Homo sapiens: one gene and its partners. The protein of the gene in region 5 interacts with the protein of the main gene of each other region in a biochemical or structural test. Each region holds a gene or a part of one and is shown on either strand. Other genes may lie near its edges.

Region 1 (3,500 bases), on a different chromosome or scaffold from region 5:
CTCTCTCTCTCTATATATATATATACATATATATATATATGTGTGTGTATATATATATACACACACATCACACACAATATAAAGTCTCCAGAGGCAGCCTATATAAGCACATAAGCACACAGGTCTGGAAAAGGAAATAGCATCCTCCACTCATGAGCTTTACAGCTATGTCCCTGATGAAAACTAGAGAATCTTCCTTGATTGCTGGCACCATTAATCGCAACTGTTCCAAGATTATCCTTAGTGGAGAGAGGGGTGCAGGGATGCAGAAAACCAGGAAGAGGCCAATTTGGCTGGGGTATTGTTTGCTCAGCAGGCTAGAGCTTGATCATGGGACTTTCCAGCTTCCTGGGGCCCTTCAAATGAAGGAACCATCCAAGCACGACAACAAAAGGAAACTGGGTCGCTGGATCCCACGTGAAGGCAGAACTGGGGCAAGCACAGAGCATGTTCAAACCCTCAGGAGCTGAGACTCACCCCCGCCAAAGCCAGCCAGGCCTCTCTTCTTGCTTTTCTATCCCATTTCTTAGCCTGGAGCTGATGTGCTCCTTTCCAGCCCCACCTGGCAGGTCAAAGTCCTTGCCCTACACTTCATAGGCTAAAAAGGCAGTAATGTTAGCAGCTGACATGGAAATTGTTTGGTAGCAAAGTGCGCCCCTGAATATTCTCTTCCTCCCAGCTCCTCCTATTGCTTTCTCTAGCAGCCCAGAGCATTTATTCACTCATACAAACAAGGCATTCGGTGTCTAGGGAATCATTTTCAAGGAGAAGCAGGGCTTAGAGGCCTCTCACAGAGACTCAGAAAGACACCAGACTGAGTCCTCTGGATAGCTACCAAGGGTCCTAGCACACAGCCACATCTACACTGCCCTCAATGATCTAGATGTTGCAGTAGCTGTCCACATTATTACATAATCATGCCCTGTGCATCCATCAGTGGAATGATGCAGGGAGTTCTCAGCTGCAAACTCATCTGGAACATATTAGACTATTTTAGGAGTGCAGAGGAGCACAGAAAGTTATATCCATTTCCATGCTGAGGTTCATGAAGTACAAGAAGTAGCCATCCAGACAGGCCACCTCAACTGCCTCAGTGCACCAGCTGGTCATGTCAAGTCTGGGTTATGGGCTTCTGCTGCCTGATCACAACTAACATAGCCAGACTGGAGGGCTTCTGTGGGTGTGGGGAGATGGCAGACACCCCTGCACCACTTCAATTGCTCCAGATACAGTGAAAAATCCCTCCCACTCCCATCTAGGTAGAAAGCAACAGTCAAATGCAAGAGGTGAGGCTGAGAGAAACTGTCTTCCATGGATCTAACACACTAGCAGGCAAGAGGGAGAATGAGAGCAGGTTTTAGCTTGCATCCAGCTGTTTCTTGAGTGATGTGTACAGCTTACCCCCAAAGAGGCAACTGAATTTCAGCTGCTCTAATACCCACACCCTCAACTTAGGTTTAGTCATAATAAAAAACAGAATGGATTTGTTAGTTCCATTGATTGCCACAAACCTCACCTTCTGTGTGGCAGAGATGTGCTTTAGTTCTTCATTGGAATGTTACTTTCAGATCTCACAAACCTCAAACCTAGGGCACCACCAATGACAAAGAGAATGCTAAATAGATAAATCCTTTGCCAGGTCTTCAAGCTTTCCACTCCCCTCGAGTACAAAGTTTGGAATAACTTTTCTGATCCTCAGTGATGAGGTTATAGCCAACCAGGGCAGACAGAAGAAAGGCTAAAGCACCTGGCTGTTAGATCAGACTTCCCTTTTATCCCTGAGTCAGGCAGCCACCTGGGAGGGAAAGGAAAGAGGTGATCCTGTAGCCTGTTCTTTTTTTATGAAAGATCTGCCTTCTAGAGAGGTCCCTAAGCAGAAAAAAAAAGAGTAGAACTGGAGAGGTGAAAAGAATGCAAAGGAGGTCATTCAAAAAATGCACATAAATGCAGTTTATTCCTTGGATTGCCAAATTTATTCCACATAAGTGAAACTAAGGAGATTGGTCAATGTATAATTCTATAATTTAAAAATAGTATACATATATACATATACTATATATATATATATACACACATAAATATATGTATATATGGAAAACCTCTAAAAACTCAGGACCAATTAACCAAAACCTCGATTGACAAGAATTATGTTTTCTTACTATCCTTTCAGTAGAAAGAGGCAAATGACAGCAAGGGCTCCGATGAGCCAGGATGTGCCCCAGTGGCCCATTTCCAGGCCTGTCTTGTAGCCAGCAGCCATTCAGCCTGTCTCTTTGGTCTTCTCTACCTATGTCCACTACTGTACAATAAGCATTGAGGTTTACAATGTTGACCCTGAGCAAGGCAAGGTCCCTGTTATCTTCAAACACTCTACTTAACTAAGGCAGGAAAGTTATGCTAACCTACTTAGGAAATATTTTTCTCAATAACAAAGGTTGAACCAGACATGCTTTCCCATTCCCACTCAAATAACCAAAATTGCAAAGCAATCAGGATGTTCCTGTCCCTGAGGTTTCCCCATCAGTTAACTGAGGTTTTGCTGTACATATGTGTATAGAGCAAGGTAGATCAAAAAAGGATGGAATGGGACCCTGGGGTTGCCAGCCTTCCCTGATTGTCCAGTCTGAACATTTAAGCTCACAGATGTTAGGAAAGGGGACTCTTCTGAAGCCCCTGGCTATGTGTGCAAATATTTGTGCAGCTGCACACTCTAGCGGGTGGTAGAGTCTTTATTTCACTAATGTCATGCCCTAACCACCCAAACTTCTATCCCTGTAGACTTCTACTGAAACCCACAAGAACCTGCTTCCTTCTGCAGCTCTCACGGAGTCCCTTTGGTTGAGCAAGTCAGCTTATTTTGAAAGAGAGTCAGAGGGCAATTCCCAAATCTGCCCAGGCTACTGATCCCAAGTGCAAACCTCCAGGCCACATTCCCTCAGCATCCGTCTCCCTGGGGAAGGGAGAAGGGGAAGCAAAAGGATCAAGTAATGGCTTTTAGTGCATGGAAATGATCTTCTGTAATGGCTCAGGATGCTTTATTCTTATCTATTGGGAAGTGCTTTCGTGTAGGCTTCCATTACATCTGCCAGACTGAGGGAAAGTCAACAAAATGGGCTGAAAAGGTCACACAAACTTAGGATTTTCATGCCTAGAGGTTGTAAGGATGCTGTATGACAGCAGGCAGAAATGGGGAGACAGAGGGAGAGGGGACAGAGACACACATGGAGACAGAGAGGTGCACACAGGAAGGAGACAAAGTGACAAAGCCCTCTCACAGGCCTTCCTTGTGCATACACTGCATCTTAGCATATGTGTCCATTCCAGAAGGAGGTCAGATCTCAAGAGGACAGGAGTCATGTGAACACGTGGGAAGAAGAAGAAACTACAGAGACTGTGAATGAGCCCCCAGAAGTCAAGGGCATTATCTGATAATCCAGGTACTATCTATCACTTTTCAGTCCTGAGAGCAAGATTTTGAAAGAGCTATTGCTAAAGAAAAC
Region 2 (2,722 bases), on a different chromosome or scaffold from region 5:
TTACAGTTTTTGCAAGGGTGTTCTAACTGATGACAGTGGGGTAAAGTGGGATTTCTATTGTCTTCTTTGGTTACAATTTGAATCTGGCTTCTTACTATGTCATTTTAGAATCTGCTTTGGATACTATTTACAACGTGCTTATTCTGATTCTTAGCAAATAGGAAAATAGGTGTGGTGTTTGGCTTTTCAGGAAGAATACTGCTTTGAGGAACTGCAGAGTACAGGTATTTTCATGCAATGTGCTCTGGGGTCTGTATTTCTAGGTAGAATGACTTATTTTGAACTTAAGGCTTCATATTTGCTGCCCTCTTTTCTGAAGCTATGAAAAAACTCCTTAACATTACACAATTGAAATACTTTCAGACATTTGCTGCCAAGAGGAGTGTGAAGAAAACAACAAAAGGTATTGGCAATAGAACAGTGGAATGGAAGAACTGAGTATGTCCAGGAGTTTAAGATAAAGCAATTATTGCTAGTGTTTACACATTTCTTTAGTGGGTAGAGGAGGCCACCTGATCAGCTTACTTGGTCAAGTCAATAGGCTGCCTCCCAGGATACCTCCCAGGATACCTCTACTCACAGAAATCTTGCTGCGTTAGGAAAATCTCTCAAGAGCTTCTACTGATAGTGTTAGTCATCTAACAAGTGTGACCTGATCATCCTGTCTCCACATCTAGGACTCCAACCAGGTCTTTGAATTCTAACCTGCATCCATCATGGGGCTTATCACATACTGAGTGTGTAGCTGGCCTTGTTAAGTAGGTGCCTGGGAGTTCCTTAGAAGGCTAGGGGCCCCCAAGTACCTGAGGAGAAACTTTGATTGAAACCAATTACAACATTATTCAATATAAGCTGATGATAAAGGCTTTACTATTTTGGTAAAGCAAAATCTTGAAAAACTAAAGATGAGAAAAGGAAATAGTAATCAGAAGTCAAATACTGGAAAAACTAGCACCTGGTAGTATTCTCTGCACCTCATGTGGCAGATGTTCAAGAAAAACTTTCTGAATGAATACAGCTGAGCGAAAACATAACATTCCACTTCCAGCATCAACACTGTCACTTAGAACAGTTCATTATTTTGTAGAACACTTGCATCTTGCTGGCCTCAGTAATATTTGAGAAGATAGTTAGAAATTCAGGATTTGTATCTCTTAGAGTGAATTCCAAATATTCATTTGTTTTGAGGTTTTTACAAATTTGCTGACAAGTGGGAAGCTAAATCTGTCTTCGTGTCACAAACCTGAAAGACTTTTTCTATATTAAAATTAAAAACAGGAGGTTCACAGCAATTTTCCTGAATGCTGGCTATCCTAGACATATGTGTGCCATTACTCAGCTTGCTACTGCTTAGGGAGAGGGCTGAACCACCGTTGTGTCTGAGGCCTCACAGATAAACAGAGCAAGGGTAATTCTGATTAAATAATGGTTACCTCCTGAGATTATAGGGAGCGTAGGTAAAAATTAAACCAATGTCCAATTCAATGCCCTTTAAAAAAGTGTTGTAGAGACTTAAGAGGCACGCACTGTTTAAGGACACACAGCAGGAAGCTCCTCAAACCCTTTGTGAGGGTTAGTTTCCTTTATTGTTATTGCATTTATTGTTGGCTATGGGTCATTTTACATTGGTGCTTTGTTACTGCCCTTCATTTCCTTTCAACCTTCCTTTCTGGATGTCTCTTTCTTTTTGTGTCTTACCTTAGGCACCCTGACTAAGCTTTAGGATTTCTAGATTCCTTTCCCTCAAATGTTATTGAAGACAAGGAACATTGCTACTTGTATTCTTCCATTTCTCTGTTGAATACTATGTTTCCCCACAGTAGCTCTCATCATAGTAAGCTCCCTCTGTGGGTAACTCTAGGAGCCATTTAGTCAACGTTAGTCCAAAGGTGAAATAGGGCGGATCTAAGTGTAGTCCCATTTAGGAGACTTTAGCCCAGGTTAAGCCTCACTGTAACCAAAGATTTCTAATAACGTGTGGATAATCAGTGATCTTAGCTTAAGAAATATTAAATATAACCAATGCAAATGTAAAGAAGCTTTGGGTAGTGTCTTTGAAAAACTGGAATACATATGTCCAAATGCATTAGTTGGGAAATAATGAATATAAGCATTTCCCAGCACACAATCATCTCTGAGCTGGGAATATAACAGTGCTCCTAACACAAGGAGAGGTATTTGGTTTACTCTTTGCTAAGGCCCACACACTGGAGATGACTGCTTTTGCTTTAGTTCTGCTGATCTTTTTTATTTTCCATAGGACAGGATCTGGCCTTGTAGCATGTTCTCCTCAGGCTTCCTAATGACACTGTCCAAATCTTTGTTTCACTTTAATTTTTCCACACTCTGTGTGGGGGTGCATCATCCTGCCTTGGAATAACTGGTTCCTCCCTCTTTTGCATTTGAATCTGCTGCCTCAGCACCTTATTAAATATACTGAAGCCTATGCTCATTACTTCTATGCAGTTTAAAGTGACTAAGAATCTAGCACACCAGGATTTTTCTGCCACCCAAGAATCTCAGTCCTTATTAAGTGGCTAAGTGATTCCTAATGCCTACACTAAAAGTTCAGAATTTAATTTCTGAATCGGTATGAGGCAGGAGGATGGCTTTTAATGGGGTAGTATTTCATTAAATTGAATTATGGCTAAGGTATAGTTTATACACCTTCTGTAGGACAGCATTTTTTTTAAAGGGGAATTTTTGGGACTCTAAGAGTGTA
Region 3 (3,500 bases), on a different chromosome or scaffold from region 5:
CTTACCTGTCCAAAAAGTTAACGATGTTGGGATTTTTCAATTCTTTCATCACCAGAATCTCGTTAATGATCAGTTCCTTCTTTGGCTGTTTCTGTAAATTAATTTGTTTGATAGCAACCTATAATGAAAACAGGATTGAAAAAAACCAGGTTTAGGAATTCTCTTAGAAAATTACAAACCCCAAGCAGTTGATAACTCACGGTACGTGTACTGTATTACACCATGCTATTACTCCCAGGTGGCACCTTGCCTTGCACACTGCCTGTGCACAATGCTTTGTAATGTTTAGAACCTAGTTTTAGATTTATCTTGAAGTTGATTAATACACCCACAGTCAGTCCAATACTAAGAATTAATCCTCTTTTCACTTCAAGCTGAGGAAACAATTTTTAAGTATTTGCTTATTTATGACATTGAACTCATAAGTCCTTCCCCGCCTTACTGACAGAAGTGCTATAAACATACGTAGAGCGATTCTTACAACGGGCTCAACTTAAAAGAGGTTCCTATTGCTTCTTCCCAGCTTCATCTAGTTTCCACCTATATGACAAAATAATGGTAACACCCAGGATTACAACAAAGTAACTACCTCCTGTCCCAGTGCAACGTCAGTAGCAGTGAAAACTGTACCAGAAGCCCTAGAGGGAGAAAACACACAACCAGATTTAAGGTTGATAAATCACTAGCATTTGCAATATCCAAAGACTTTACACTTCAAGCAATTGAAAAAGAATTAAAGAACAGGATGACCTAACGTGCTTAAAAGGAGTAAAAGCAAAAACCTGAGGAAAGGGGGTGGGGGAAGAAAGAGACAATCCTTACGGCAAAACTTATGTGTGAAATATTTCAGACCTACAAAAATGTAGGGAAAAAAGAGCAGGAAAAAAATTATATAACATATACTTAAGGATACACTTCCCTGATTAAGATACAAATAACTGTAAATAATTTGAAGATTCCCATAAGCCCTTTCCGACAGCAGTCTCCTTCCTCCCAAAGGTGATCTGTATTTGGTGTTTATCCTGTATTTGGTGTTCATCATTTTCATGCATTTCTCCATACTTTTAACTACAAAGGACGCAGATATGTATCCCTATAAAATATACTTTGTCTAATTTTTAAACGTCATATAGTTTCATTTCACATATTATTCTGCAACTTGCTTTTGTGACTCAACACTGGATTTGTGATGGTCATCCATATGGATAGGTATTGCTTGTTCATTCATGCTCAAAAATAGTAAGATAATCTTCAATTCTCTTTCATAAAACCAGTGCTGCAATTGAATTTAGCTGTTAGGAAGAAATTCAGGCCTGGTGCAGTGGCTCACACCTGTAATCCCAACACTTTGGGAGGCTGAGGCAGAAGAATCGTTTGAACCCGGGAGGCAGAGGTTGCAGTGAGCTGAGATTATGTCACTGCACTCCAGCCTGAGTGACAGACTCCGCCAAAAAAAAAAAAAAAAAAAAAGGGAAGGAAGGAAGAGAAGGAAGGGAAGGGAGGGAAGGAAGGGAGGGAAGGGAGGGAAGGGAAGGAAGGAAAGGAAGGGAAGGAAGGGAGGGAGGGAAGGGAGGGAAGGGAGGGAAGGGAAGGAAGGGAGGGAGGGGAGGGAGGGAAGGAAGGGAAGGGAAGGGAGGGAGGGAAGGGAAGGAAGGGAGGAAGGAATTCATATGGAAGTTTTCAAAAATGGCTTAAGCCCTCACTCTAAATTCACAGAATGCTTTCCAGAGTTTAATAACATTAAAAATTTAGGTGTTTATTTGCTTCCAAGCAACAGAAAAAAGGAGTTTAGTTAGTATACTTTAAAAATACAAATTACACAACAAAATCAGAAGATCAGTAGACTCAAAAGTCAATACACAATGACATGATTTAAATGCATTTTTTATTGCTTATAGTCATGCAGTAAATATTCTTATTGTCTTTTAAATATATTTTATGGGCAATTCTTCCCTCTAATTATCACAGATGGGAAATGACACTTAAGAAAAAATAATGATACACAGTCATTGCTAACAACTAGTACAGTTTTTTAACAGCATCTACAAATAACTGCATTATTTATTTACACAAATCCCCCAAGGGTACCACTCACAGAATACTATATAAGTACTTGATGTCGGCAGGCAAAATAAACATCATGCTATAAAGCCAGGAAATACTGAATACTGAATATTATCGTAATACAGTCACAAATACTTACCCTTGTCCAATTTTTTCATATCTTGTATATTTTTTCTTAGGGTCACCTATGCTCACGATAGTTCCTAGAATAAACAAAAAGCTGGAAGCTCAGTCAAGCATTTTAAGTGTAAATTGATTGTGATATTATTATTCCTTTTAATGAACTCCACTGTTTTTATAAGTGATTTTCAAACATAATACTAAGTTCCAAAAATAACAGGTTTCAAACACAAAACACTAAAGAAACTTAAATACATAATAAAAGTTTAAAAGTATCAGAAACAAGACACATTAAAAGTTTAAAAGTAACAGAAACAAGAAGACACATTATTTCCATTAGGTTAGACCTCCTAACTAATCATTTGCTCAATAATGGTCACATTTTGAAAAGACTGTACCAGTTTGTCAGAGATTAATTAGGTTCTCAGATGTTCAGCTTTAGAATCAGGTAATCTCAAGAAAATAGACATATTTGAATATAAAATAGATATATTTGAATATAGAAATAGATATATTTGAATATATCTATTAATAGGTAAGTTTGAGACTACTTAGTATTATAAATAATAAAGGCTATCTAAACCCTAAATGGTCTTTCTGACTCTTCCAGTATACATTTCATCTTTCAATATATTTAGAAAACCACTTATTACCATAAAAATTACTATGCTCTGACATAAACTAATCATATGTTTGTTTTAGGAAAGTTCAAAGTCACAAGAAAGAGGTTTTAAAATTAGGAAGTTGGACATAAAATCCTAACTTATATTCTTATTACTAGTAAGAAAAACCACATTAAACTTTCACTTGCTCAAGGTAAAAAAGGACAGGACCATATCAAGGAAACTGACATAAATAGTTTTATGTAGGTACCCAACCTCAAGTCAACAAGCAAAGAAACAGGATCAATAATAAGAGGCTAAGAACAAAAAGATACCAAAAAGACTGGGGATGTGACAGCTAAAGGTCACAACTAAATGATGACAATTAGGATTCTAGTTAATTTTTTTTTTTTTTTTAAGTAGCAGCTCTCCTAAAATAATTCTTATATGCTCATAGAGTAACAGAGCAGGCCAGGTGTGGTGACTCATGCCTGAGGTCAGGAGTTTGAGACCAGCCCAGCCAACATGGTGAAACCCCATCTCTACTAAAACTACAAAAATTAGCGGGGTGTGGTGGCGCACACCTGTAGCCCCAGCTACTCGGGAGGCTGAGGCAGAAGAAACGCTTGAACTGGAGAGGCAGAGATTGCAGTGAGCCACGCCACTGCACTCCAGCCTGGGTGACAGAGCGAGACTCTGTCTCAAAAAAAAAAA
Region 4 (3,500 bases), on a different chromosome or scaffold from region 5:
CACCCCCACCATTGGCTCCAGCCCTACTGAGAAACTGCACCCACTGTTGGGTCTCCCACCTGGGGTCCAGCATCTTCTGGGGCTGGGGGCCCAAGCCCTTTTCTCCTCTATCCTCCCTGGTTTCTCAGCCTCGGCCTGCCCAGGCCGTCTCACCAGAGCTGTGCTCTCCAAGACAGCAGCACCCCAGGGAGCAGGGTAGGGAGGCTGAGCCTTGTGGTCTGTGGCCCCAGGACCCAGCCCTTCTGCTCCAAAGATGACTGAGGCCAACCCGCCCCCTCCAGATATCAGGGGCCCCCCATGCCCACTCTTCTAAGGCTGGGTCCACCTGGCTTCCTCACAAGCCTCTGGGCCCTGTGAAGGAGGGTTTTGGGACTGGAAGATGGAGCCCAGCCTGGAAAAGACAGGCTGTGGGACAGCCCCTGGAACCTCCCCCTCACTGCCTACACACCGCTACCCCTCATCCTGCAGAAATCTGCTGCCAGGGCATCTTGAAAAGGGCCCTGAAATAAAACCTGCCTTCCTGACTTGAATCTGGGATGTGGGTGAGGGGTGGGGGTGTGAGTGCCAGCCAATCGCAACTCACACCACATCCCTTTGGCTCCAAGAGGCCCCCTGCCAAGCACACCCTCCCCAAAAGATCTGTGACCCCACATTTAAAATACCGATGGAAATAGCCCTACTTGCTAGGTAACAAAGGAAGTAACCCCTCCCCCACTATCACCTGGTCTCATCCCTCAAACCCTGACCTCGGGGCCTGAGGGATCTGCAGGGGCTGCTTCCAGCCATGGCCCCTGAAGCTGCAGCCAGAATTGTTTGGCCAAATAGGTGAGGGGGTGTCCACAGGGAGGGCCTCTGGGCAGGTGGGCTGAGGTTGGCCTGCCAGGCAGAGGGCAGAGGGTGCGGAGGGCCCGCCCTCACAGGCACTTTGGAGACTTGTGTCCTGGGAGGCAGAGTCAGCCCCCTAGCTCAAAGCAGGAAGGGGACACAGGGAGATAAAGGAGCCCAACCACATGCCCCCTCCCTGCCCTGGGCCTTCCGTCCTGGGAGACCCAAGACCCCCCAACAACCTGGGGCCAAATTTCCTTCCTCAGCCTTAGAGGAGCCCCCAGGCTCCCAGCTAGTGGGGGTCTGGCCCCAAACCTCCCCCTCTGCCAGCTGCGGTGGGGAGGAAGCAGGTAGGGGTGAAGCCAGGCCCACCTGCATGCAATGCCCTAAAAGGGCTGTGGCCCCACACTTTTTCCGAGAAAGGCAAGGGCCTGCCTGTTTCCCTCCAGCATTGAGAGCAGGTCATGTGGAGTGAGACTGTGCATCCACATGGGATTGTGTCTGACACTGGCTGGGGTTGGCGGCTGCATGGTTGGTGTGGGCACCATGGCATGGGACTGAGTATGACGGGGCAACTTAGGGGGACCCAATATGGGCTGATTGTTCTGGCTCGATTCCACCCTCCCCAGTAAGCCTGAAAGCTGGAGACAATGTGTGTGGTGCCAGAGTGTGGGTGTATTTGGGGTAGGAGGAGGCCACACTGTCACTGTCATGTGACCATGACTAGTGACTTGCATTGCAGTACGTGTCTGGGGGTGTGTAAGTGATGCATGAGGATAAACATTCTTGGAAGGACGCGTGTGTTCTGTGATATGTCTTGATTGGCTGGGCGGTCAGGATTGCGTATGGTTTTGTCATTGCATGCTTTTGTCTTGTGTGTGACTGAGTGAAAATATGGTGATAGTGTGGGCAATGGTGTCTGTGCAGAGTCCCCTCATAGGAGGGACATCAGAGCAGCCCCTCCTCACCAGTGGCTGCCCCAGCACCCTCAGGAAGCTGTTTCTTGGGGGAAGATGCAGAAAGAAATGAAGTCTGGGTACATGTGTACTTGGCAGGCAAGAGGAGAGATTCAACAACCCCAGAGAGACCAGGACAAAACAGGCTGGTGACAAGGGACACCCTCTCACCCAGCTAGAGAGAGGCCCTGGGATACGAGCAAGAGGTTGCAGTGTCTAGATGATTTCAAGGGCTGTGTTTACCAAATGTTTGTCCTGGAAACCAGCCTGAGTGCCTCTCTGCCCCAAAAAGGAGATCTCAGTGAGCACTGTGGGTGCCAAGTCAGGGCTCAGGCTCATCTCAAGCCCCACCCTTTCTTCCACCACCAGCCAATCAGGAGCTTTCTTCCTCCCATCCATCTGACATGAGGTCCTGAAGCCCCAGACTGGTGGCAGGGATGAGGGGAACAAGAGATGAGCTCGTAAGGGCACAGTCTGGGGCAGATGGCAGCAGCCCCTCTTCCTCGGGGAAGATCTGTGTGAGGCTGGCAGCCTGGGCAGACCTTGGGAGAGAGGGCAGAGAAGAACTGGGGCCAGGTTCCAGGCCCAGTCCCAGGCTTGGGCTGGTGGGGCCAGGCTGGGGACTGGACAGCAGGGTGGTGTTGAGGCTGCAGGGAGGCACTGTGGCTCCACTAGGCATAGAACTCCTCCTGCTTGTCAGGCTTCTGGTATGTGACGCTCGCCTGCTTGGGTTCCTCCAGCGTGTAGCTGCCCTCATCCTTTTTCTTCATACGATAGATGAGCAGTGTGACCAAGAAGGCAGCAAAGAGGGCGCCCACCACCCCGCCCACAATCACAGCTGTGGAAGAAGAGGGCACAGGTCAAGGCCCAGAGGCAGGGTAGAACCAGGGCAAAGGGTCCTCAGGGGTGGGGGCCAGGGTGAGGAGAGGGCTGGGAGTCCCAGATCTGAGTTGGAGTGATGATGGAGTCAATACTACTACTACCAGCACTGGGTACCATCATAGGCCTTCACTGGCTGCATTCTAATCGCCCAACACACTAACTCACTGAACCCTCACACCAGCCCTATGAGGGAGGGGTCATCTGAGGGCTTCATCAAATTTAAAATGCCACCACTCATAAGATGCCCCAGTATTTTATAACTGCTAGGAAAGAAAAAGCTCTGCTAACTAAATATGACATACCCCAACTACAGAAGACTTAACATGTGAACAGATGTGCCTCTTAGAATTGATTAAGGGCAAAATGACTATCCCCATTCTACCGATGAAGAGAAGGAAGACTGGAGAGGTGAAGTACCTTGCCTTGAGTGCAAAGCCAGGATTTGAACCAGGAGTCCACAGACTCCCTAGATGCGGCCAGGGCAGGTCCACAGGGACTGGGGTCAAAAACTGGGGAAGGTCAAGCTGAAGGATGGGTCAGAGATTAGCATCTAGGAAGTAAGGTCCCAGGGGGTCAGCCAGTGTGGCCCAGGAAAGCAGGGATCAAAGTCAGAGTCCACAGAGGGGTCAGAGGACACTGAGGGAAGACCTAGAGATGGACATGAAGTCAGGGTTGGATATTGGGAAGGAGGAAAGTTGGGAGGAGCCAGAAGGCAGGTCCTGGGGGGTTGAGTTCTCAAGTTTCCTTCCTATCTGGCTCCTAGGAAACCACGCCCTGATCTCCTTTCTGGGTTCCTAGAGGCAAACTGAGGCCCAGCCAGCTGTCTCACTCTGGTAT
Region 5 (3,500 bases):
TGGACAGGAGCCCCGTGGAGGTGGAAGCCGACAAGACTCTGCCGTCAGCTCAGGGACAGAGGGCAGGGCAGGTTGGCGGGTCCTGGGGCTGGACCGGCAAGACCAGGATAGCGCTAGCCGGCTGCCTGGAGCATTGTGGCCAGAGACTCAGCCTATGTGTGGCTGCAAGTGACAAGTGCCTTAATGGAGAGCCTTAAAGGAGAGTTAAACATGCCTTCCAAGGAAAACCTGGCCAGGAGAGAATAAGCCCCGCCCAGGCCCCAGAGCTCCCAATCCCCTCGGCACAGGTCCCAGGGAGGGTGCGCTGCGGCCCACTCCTTGCCACTCACCTCCAGCTTCCTCCTGGCCTCTTCCTGCTCCTGCCGCTCCTTGGCCATCCGCTGGGCTCTCTCCGCCTCCGCCTTCCGCCTGTCCTCCTGCTCTTTCTCCTTAGCGAGGTTTTCAAAGTTAGCTCTGATGTTACTTGTTTTGCTGGTCACTATAGAGGAAGGAGGGAGGACGTGTGCCTTGAGCACAGCAAAAACACTGCTCCTGGACAACAGCCCCACCCACACAGAGTGACCTCCCCAGGAACCGGTCATCCCCCTAACCCCCAAGGAGGGAAAGGTTCTTGCAGCTGCCAGCTCAGCCCACTGGTCCGGAGCCAGCACTGGGCACCTGCCGCAGGGCACTGCGTACCTGGTGGGACTGGCAATCCCCCTAAGCCTGGCATCAGGAAGATCTCTAAATAAGACGGTATCTTCACCACCACACTCACCTTTTTAAATAAAAACAGCCAATTTCCCTTAAAGACATCTGTCCTTGATAAAGCAGTTAAGGTACTGATGTATACTGTAATTGACGTATACTGAGTATAGTAAATCTCAACCAGAGTATACATTTTTTTATATTGTGTGTGACAAAAATGGAAAAGAGGGCAGTGGCTCATGCCTGTAATCCCAGCACTTTGGGAGGTTGAGACGGGAAGACTGAGATCAGGAGTTTGAGACCAGCCTGGGAAAGACAGTGAGACCCCGTGTCTATTAAGAAAAAATGATAAAAATTTAAGTCAAAAGTGGGGAATATGGCCGGGCATGGTGGCTCACACCTGTAATTCCAGCACTTTGGGAGGCTAAGGTGGGCGGATCACGAGGTCAAGAGATCAAGACCATCCTGGCCAACATGGTGAAACCCTGTCTCTACTAAAAATAGAAAAATTAGCTGGGCTTGGTGGCAGGCACCTGTAATCCCAGCTACTCGGGAGGCTGAGGCAGGAGAATCGCTTGAACCTGGGAGGCAGGGGTTGCAGTGAGCCGAGATTGTGCCACTGCACTCCAGTCTCGCGACAGAGCGAGACTCTGTCTCAAAAAAAAAAAAAAAAAAAAAAAAAAAAAAAGTGGGAAGACACATGAGCCTTCCCTGCTGTGTCCGGGACTGTGGCGGTGGCTGTCTGTGTCTCAAGGACCATGAATAGAACCATGAGAGCTGCAAGTTGACTGTTTTCTCATGGAATAGCGTTTTTCCCTGAAATAACAACTGACAGTCCAACTATGGTTATGCAAAGCTGGGTATCTGGCAACAGTTTTCTCCCAAGTGAATGAACTAAGCCTATTGTGTCAAGAAAAATTACTGGAGTATTTGTTGCCAACGGGAAAATTCCAGCTTTCAAGTAAAAGACAGAATTTTGAAAAATGTGAGGCTGCCACATGAACATGCTGATTTCCACTCAGCTTCTGCAGATGAAATAGATGATGACAGCAAATGTGATTTTTTTTGGTATTGTGGAATGAGAAGTGTCCACAACTGGAAGACGAGCACAACTCAGAGACCCAGCATTTTCCAAATGACCAACACACAGTGCTGCCCAAGCACAGTGGGTAGCGAGTCCCTCACAGGGCCAGAGGAGCCGGCCTGCAGGACCACCACTGCCTGGCACGCTTGGGCGGCGTCGCAGAAGGACACCCACGCTGCCCTCAAGGTTACAAACACTCCTCCCTTTCCCAATCGCCTACCTAGGTGATTCCACATGTTCTTCCTAAACAACGTAACATCGATAGACTGCAGAGGCAGATGTGAGAGTGCAGCCATCTTCTATTAAAGAGATTTACAAAACAAAACAATGCCGGTCTTCTCACTAAGTGCTGGGATTACAGGAATGAGCCACTGTGCATGGCCAGTTATATTATTATTTTTATTTTTTGAGATGGAGTTTAGCTGTTGTCGCCCAGGCTGGAGTGCAGTGGCGCAATCAAGGCTCACTGCGACCTCTGCCTCCAGGTTCAAGCAATTCTCGTACCTCAGTCTTCTGAGTAGCTGGGATTACAGGCGTGGACCACCATGCCCAGCTACTTTTTGTATCTTTAGTAGAGACAGGGTTTCACCATGTTGGCCAGTCTGGTCTCAAACTCCTGACCTCAGGTGATCCACCCACCTCGGCCTCCCAGAGTGCTGGGATTACAGGTATGAGCCACCACACCCGGCCAAGGTTTATTCTTTTTAAGTGAACCAATTAATAACTTTCCAATGTCGCTCATGCCTGTAATCCCAGCACTTTGAGAGGCCGAGGCAGGTGGATCACTTGAGCTCAGGAATTCAAGACCAGCCTGGGCAACACAGTGAGACCTCATCTCTACTAAAGATAAAAAAATTTGGCCGGGCACAGTGGCTCATGCCTGTAATCCCAGCACTTTGGGAGGCCGAGGCGGGCAGATCATGAGGTCAGGAGATCGAGACCATCCTGGCTAACACGGTGAAACCCCGTCTCTACTAAAAAATAGCAACAACAACAAAAAAATTAGCCGGGCGTGGTGGCAGGCGCCTGTAGTCCCAGCTACTCCGGAGGCTTGAGGCAGGAGAATGCCGTGAACCCGGGATGGGAGGCGGAGCTTGCAGTGAGCCGAGTCCGCGCCACTGCACTCCAGCCTGGGCGACAAAGTGATACTCTGTCTCAAAAAAAAAAAAAATTTAACTGGGCAGGGGGCATGCGCTTATAGTTCCAGCTACTCCAGAGGCTGAGGCAAGAGGACTGCTTGAGCCCAGGAGACTGAGGCAGCAGTCCTGCCTGGATGACACAGCAAGACCCGGTCTCAAAATAAATAAATAAATAAACCATTCCTCTCTCTCTTTTTTTTTTTTTTTTGAGACGGAGTCTCGCTCTGTCATCCAGGCTGGAGTGCAGTGGCGCAAACTCCGCTCACTGCAAGCTCCGCCTCCTGGGTTCACGCCATTCTCCTGTCTCAGCCTCCCGAGTAGCTGGGACTACAGGCGCCCGCCACCATGCCTGGCTAATTTTGTTTTTGTATTTTTAGTAGAGACGGGGTTTCATCGTGTTAGCCAGGATGGTCTCGATCTCCTGACCTCGTGATCCGCCCGTCTTGGCCTCCCAAAGTGCTGGGATTACAGGCATGAGCCACTGTGCCGGGCCACATTCCTCTAATTTCTAATATAGTCAATGTCATCAAATACATCAACATCTTGGGGGTTCTCACGAGTGGTCAAAGTGTCAAAGCGTCCTGGGCCCT
Region 6 (3,500 bases), on a different chromosome or scaffold from region 5:
TTTCGAGTCAAGGGAACTACCCTTCATGATGTGGGTGTGCCTCACCTAATCAGCCAAAGAAAGGCCTTAAAAAGACTGAGGTCCCCCAAAGGGTAAGGAATGCTGCCTCCAGACTGTCTTTAGCCTGAAGACTGCAACATTAACTCCTGCTGGGATTTCCAGCCTGCTGGCCTGCCCTGTGCATTTTGAACTTGACAGCTCCTTCAATCATGTGAGCCAATTCCTTAAAAAAAATTTCTCTGTCTCTCTCCCTATCCTGTTGGCTCTGTTTCTCTGGACAACCTTAATATAGCTGTTAAATGGTGCCCAATAAGGACTGAACAACATAAATGGCCCTGATACATTGGATCATAAAACCACAATCAATCAATCTCACCAAAAATGGATCTTGTCTACACAGACTAGAAAAGTTGGGGTAGTTGTTGAGAATTCGAGGACATAATTTACACTCACTTTGTCATCCAGATCATCATCGCTCTCATCTATCTCCTCCTGTCGAAGATTCCACTCATATTCTACGTGGACGTGTGGATTGAACTTTCCAGATTTAGCCTGGGAAAGCTGGAAGGAACAGCAAATGTGCACCATTTTAATTTAAATGCTGAAACATCCCAATATTATACAAACACTGAGCAAATCCCACCTTATTCCTAGTTTTCAATGAATCATCTGTAGGTGTACTATAGGCAACACTCTGCTTAGACAAGCTGCACTGCTATGTGACAGGCTCAAGAAGAAATGCAAACAATTGCAGGCAGAGCCTTCTTTATTTTGATGACTTGTCTCCAAAATTAAAAGCTTTCTTCTTATTAAATGGGCCTCAAACTTGCAAATTCCTGGCTGAAAGGCAAAACGAGTCTTTGAAGTTTAAGACGTAGGCTTTTAAGGTCCCAGTCCAATCTGTGGCCCCATTTTCTCATTCATAAAATGGGAGCAGGGATAATTGTCTCAAAGGATTCTTTTAAGAATAAAAAGGCCCAACTGGTGGGCCTGGAACCTGGCACTTAGCAGAAACTCAAGAGAATCACACTAATGTGAAGGCCCTGACTTGCTAAGCAAGAACTAGTAGGGTCAAAAAAGGTGAATGTGCACAGGAAGGGGAGGGGCTGGGAGAACAGTGTGTTAACATTTTGAAGACCACTACTCTCTGAGCTTTACTTGCCCAATTTTTGGAGCAGCTTCTCAAATAATTCTTTACTATTAAGCTGCAGAGAAAGTCTAATGGTCTGGGAAATAAAAAGCATGACCTCAATGCACAAGTCGATCTGGTAATAATACTTGTGTAATGCCTTTCACCTCCTTTAACTGCATTCCAAAAACATGTGGATGACAAATTTATCATTTTACCACTTTTTCTAATGTAGCACATTGCTCATCTGATTTTCTTTAGCAAGTGTTAAAAAAAAATGAATCTGCATTTTTAATATTCAATTCTAGCTTCTCAGAATGACACTTTTAAGGCAGCCAATGTCTAATAAATCTCCCACGTCCATTTTTGCTTACCAGATCTTCACACTGGGTAGCTTTTAGTCTCTTTGCTATGTCTAGGGCAGTTTCTCCAGCCTGGTTAACTGAAATAGGAAAAAAATTAATTTGCATAATTATCTAGGAAACACCTTAAGAAGGCAAGGAACAATAATCAAATTACAATGTACCATGCAACACACGCTTACTACAGTCATGAAGACACTAGACACACTCTTACCTATATCCACAGTGGGCTTGCTCCTGAGCAAAAGCTTCAAACACTCAGGTTTACTGTACATACTACAGTAGTGTAGAACTGTGTTTCCCAGGGCCGTCTGCTTATCCAGGTTCCCACTGAAAAATTAGATGATGATTAGAAAAAAATGACTTACTTTATAACTTAAAACTATAGATTAGCCACTTATTTTTGTGCTGACAACTGAGTCAAATTTGAGACCTAATTATTATAATAGAGAAAATTATGATGTTTCTAACCTAGATTTATAAGCAATACAGTGATAACAGGCAGTATTTATTTAGAGTGCCAGGTCCTATGGGACAGACACTGTTTCTTAACATTTACATGTATTAGTTCATTGAATCTTTACAACTATATGATGGGGTAAATACTAATAATAACCGCTTTTACAGATAAAAAACCCTGAAGCGCAGAGAGGCTGAAGTGCTTGCTTTCAAGATTTTCAAGATAGGGATGGTGAAGCAGGGATATTTGAACACAGGTAATCTATCTCTGGAGCCAATGTTTTGAGCCACTATGCTATATTGTCTCTGAGGAAGAAACCTGGACTTTTATACAATTTGGCTTGTGTCTATGTACCATTTTTCCTCTATGGGTTCAAATCCCCTCACTATTTTGATCTTCTTCTTTAGATGAGCTCTAGTTCCTCCTCATCATCTGTTGCTTACAGAACAGATAAAGAGAATAAAGAATCCAGCAAGTCCAAACTTCCTATATTCACTCTTATACTTCCATCAGTATATCCCAAACTTGAATGAGCTATTGATCCAGCCACACACACTGCTGCTGTCTTATATTAAATTTAGGAACAATGAAAACTCACAAATATGGTTGACCTGTGCTGTTAAGTCTTCTCTCTTTTAACCTCTCCTAACGGTTAGCAAATGTGTCCAATCTGTGCAGCAGATTTTTGGATACAGACATAATTTTACATTTATAAAGGCCAAGAGATGGCAAACTACAGCCTGTAGGCCATATCTGGTTCACTGTCTGTTTTTATAAACAAAATAATAAAGTTTCATTGGAATACAGCCACACTTGCTTGTTTACACATTGTCAGTGGCTGCTTTCACACTACCATGGCAGAAGTGAATAGCTCTGACAGAGAGACTTCATGCCTGCAAAGCCAAAAATAATTTTTATATCTAGCATGACACAGAAAAAGCTTGCCAATTCCCGATCTAGGCCACTGATAGGACTGGTTTGTGTTAATTTATAAGGCATATTCAGGTAATTCAACAGAGAAAACAAAAACGATACCAGTTTTGTACAAGGAAGTCAACCAAATGGAGAGATGTCTGATCTGCAGTTCGGACGGCAAGGTGAAGGGCTGTCTCCCCAAGCTCCTAAAAAGGGAAAGAAAAGTATAAGTAAGTCAATAATATGCTCTGCCAAGGGAGGCTTCATATATATCAGTTGCCCCCAAGTAATTATAAGGAGCACACCTCTTCACTCTCATATTCTCTTGATTTAGACATGGCCACCCAATGTATAAGAATCTCATTATATGGTATAATGTTAAAATAAGTCACCTTTTAAACTGATTTTCCACATTACTTTTTATCCAATGATTTTAGTGAGGCCTTACCTGCCCAGGTTCCAGCAGTGGTTCCATTAGCTCTACCCCTTCTGCATAGACTTGAATTAGTGCAAGTAAATCCCTGGATTTGATGGCCTCAAGCAATTCATTTAGTTTAGCTGATGAAGTTGAACAGGTCTTCCTTGAAAACCTATGATCTACATACTTTGCAGTGATATATTCTTTTCGTACAGT

What was found.
Region 1: the proteins of CTTN (region 5) and KCNA2 form a complex in vitro, tested with the Homo sapiens proteins (one study listed by BioGRID).
Region 2: of the proteins of CTTN (region 5) and FER, one has a biochemical effect on the other in vitro, tested with the Homo sapiens proteins (one study listed by BioGRID).
Region 3: of the proteins of CTTN (region 5) and PAK2, one has a biochemical effect on the other in vitro, tested with the Homo sapiens proteins (one study listed by IntAct).
Region 4: the proteins of CTTN (region 5) and SDC3 form a complex in vitro, tested with the Homo sapiens proteins (one study listed by BioGRID).
Region 6: the proteins of CTTN (region 5) and ASAP1 are reported together in a solved structure, tested with the Homo sapiens proteins (one study listed by IntAct).

Annotation. Positions count from the first base shown.
Region 1 is NC_000001.11:110,594,283-110,597,782, forward strand, and holds part of KCNA2 (potassium voltage-gated channel subfamily A member 2), read right to left. Parts: 3' UTR 1-3,500. UniProt on the Homo sapiens protein: Voltage-gated potassium channel that mediates transmembrane potassium transport in excitable membranes, primarily in the brain and the central nervous system, but also in the cardiovascular system.
Region 2 is NC_000005.10:109,191,897-109,194,618, reverse strand, and holds part of FER (tyrosine-protein kinase Fer), read right to left. Parts: 3' UTR 1-2,722. UniProt on the Homo sapiens protein: Tyrosine-protein kinase that acts downstream of cell surface receptors for growth factors and plays a role in the regulation of the actin cytoskeleton, microtubule assembly, lamellipodia formation, cell adhesion, cell migration and chemotaxis.
Region 3 is NC_000003.12:196,809,357-196,812,856, reverse strand, and holds part of PAK2 (serine/threonine-protein kinase PAK 2), read right to left. Parts: intron 2,268-3,500; coding exon 2,204-2,267; intron 639-2,203; coding exon 590-638; intron 119-589; coding exon 6-118; intron 1-5. UniProt on the Homo sapiens protein: Serine/threonine protein kinase that plays a role in a variety of different signaling pathways including cytoskeleton regulation, cell motility, cell cycle progression, apoptosis or proliferation.
Region 4 is NC_000001.11:30,870,759-30,874,258, forward strand, and holds part of SDC3 (syndecan-3), read right to left. Parts: intron 2,620-3,500; coding exon 2,453-2,619; 3' UTR 1-2,452. UniProt on the Homo sapiens protein: Cell surface proteoglycan that may bear heparan sulfate. May have a role in the organization of cell shape by affecting the actin cytoskeleton, possibly by transferring signals from the cell surface in a sugar-dependent mechanism.
Region 5 is NC_000011.10:70,426,029-70,429,528, reverse strand, and holds part of CTTN (src substrate cortactin), read right to left. Parts: exon of another isoform or gene 3,442-3,500; intron 479-3,441; coding exon 330-478; intron 1-329.
Region 6 is NC_000008.11:130,115,175-130,118,674, forward strand, and holds part of ASAP1 (arf-GAP with SH3 domain, ANK repeat and PH domain-containing protein 1), read right to left. Parts: coding exon 3,315-3,500; intron 3,073-3,314; coding exon 2,987-3,072; intron 1,822-2,986; coding exon 1,706-1,821; intron 1,572-1,705; coding exon 1,504-1,571; intron 841-1,503; coding exon of another isoform or gene 658-840; exon of another isoform or gene 640-657; intron 562-639; coding exon 454-561; intron 1-453. UniProt on the Homo sapiens protein: Possesses phosphatidylinositol 4,5-bisphosphate-dependent GTPase-activating protein activity for ARF1 (ADP ribosylation factor 1) and ARF5 and a lesser activity towards ARF6.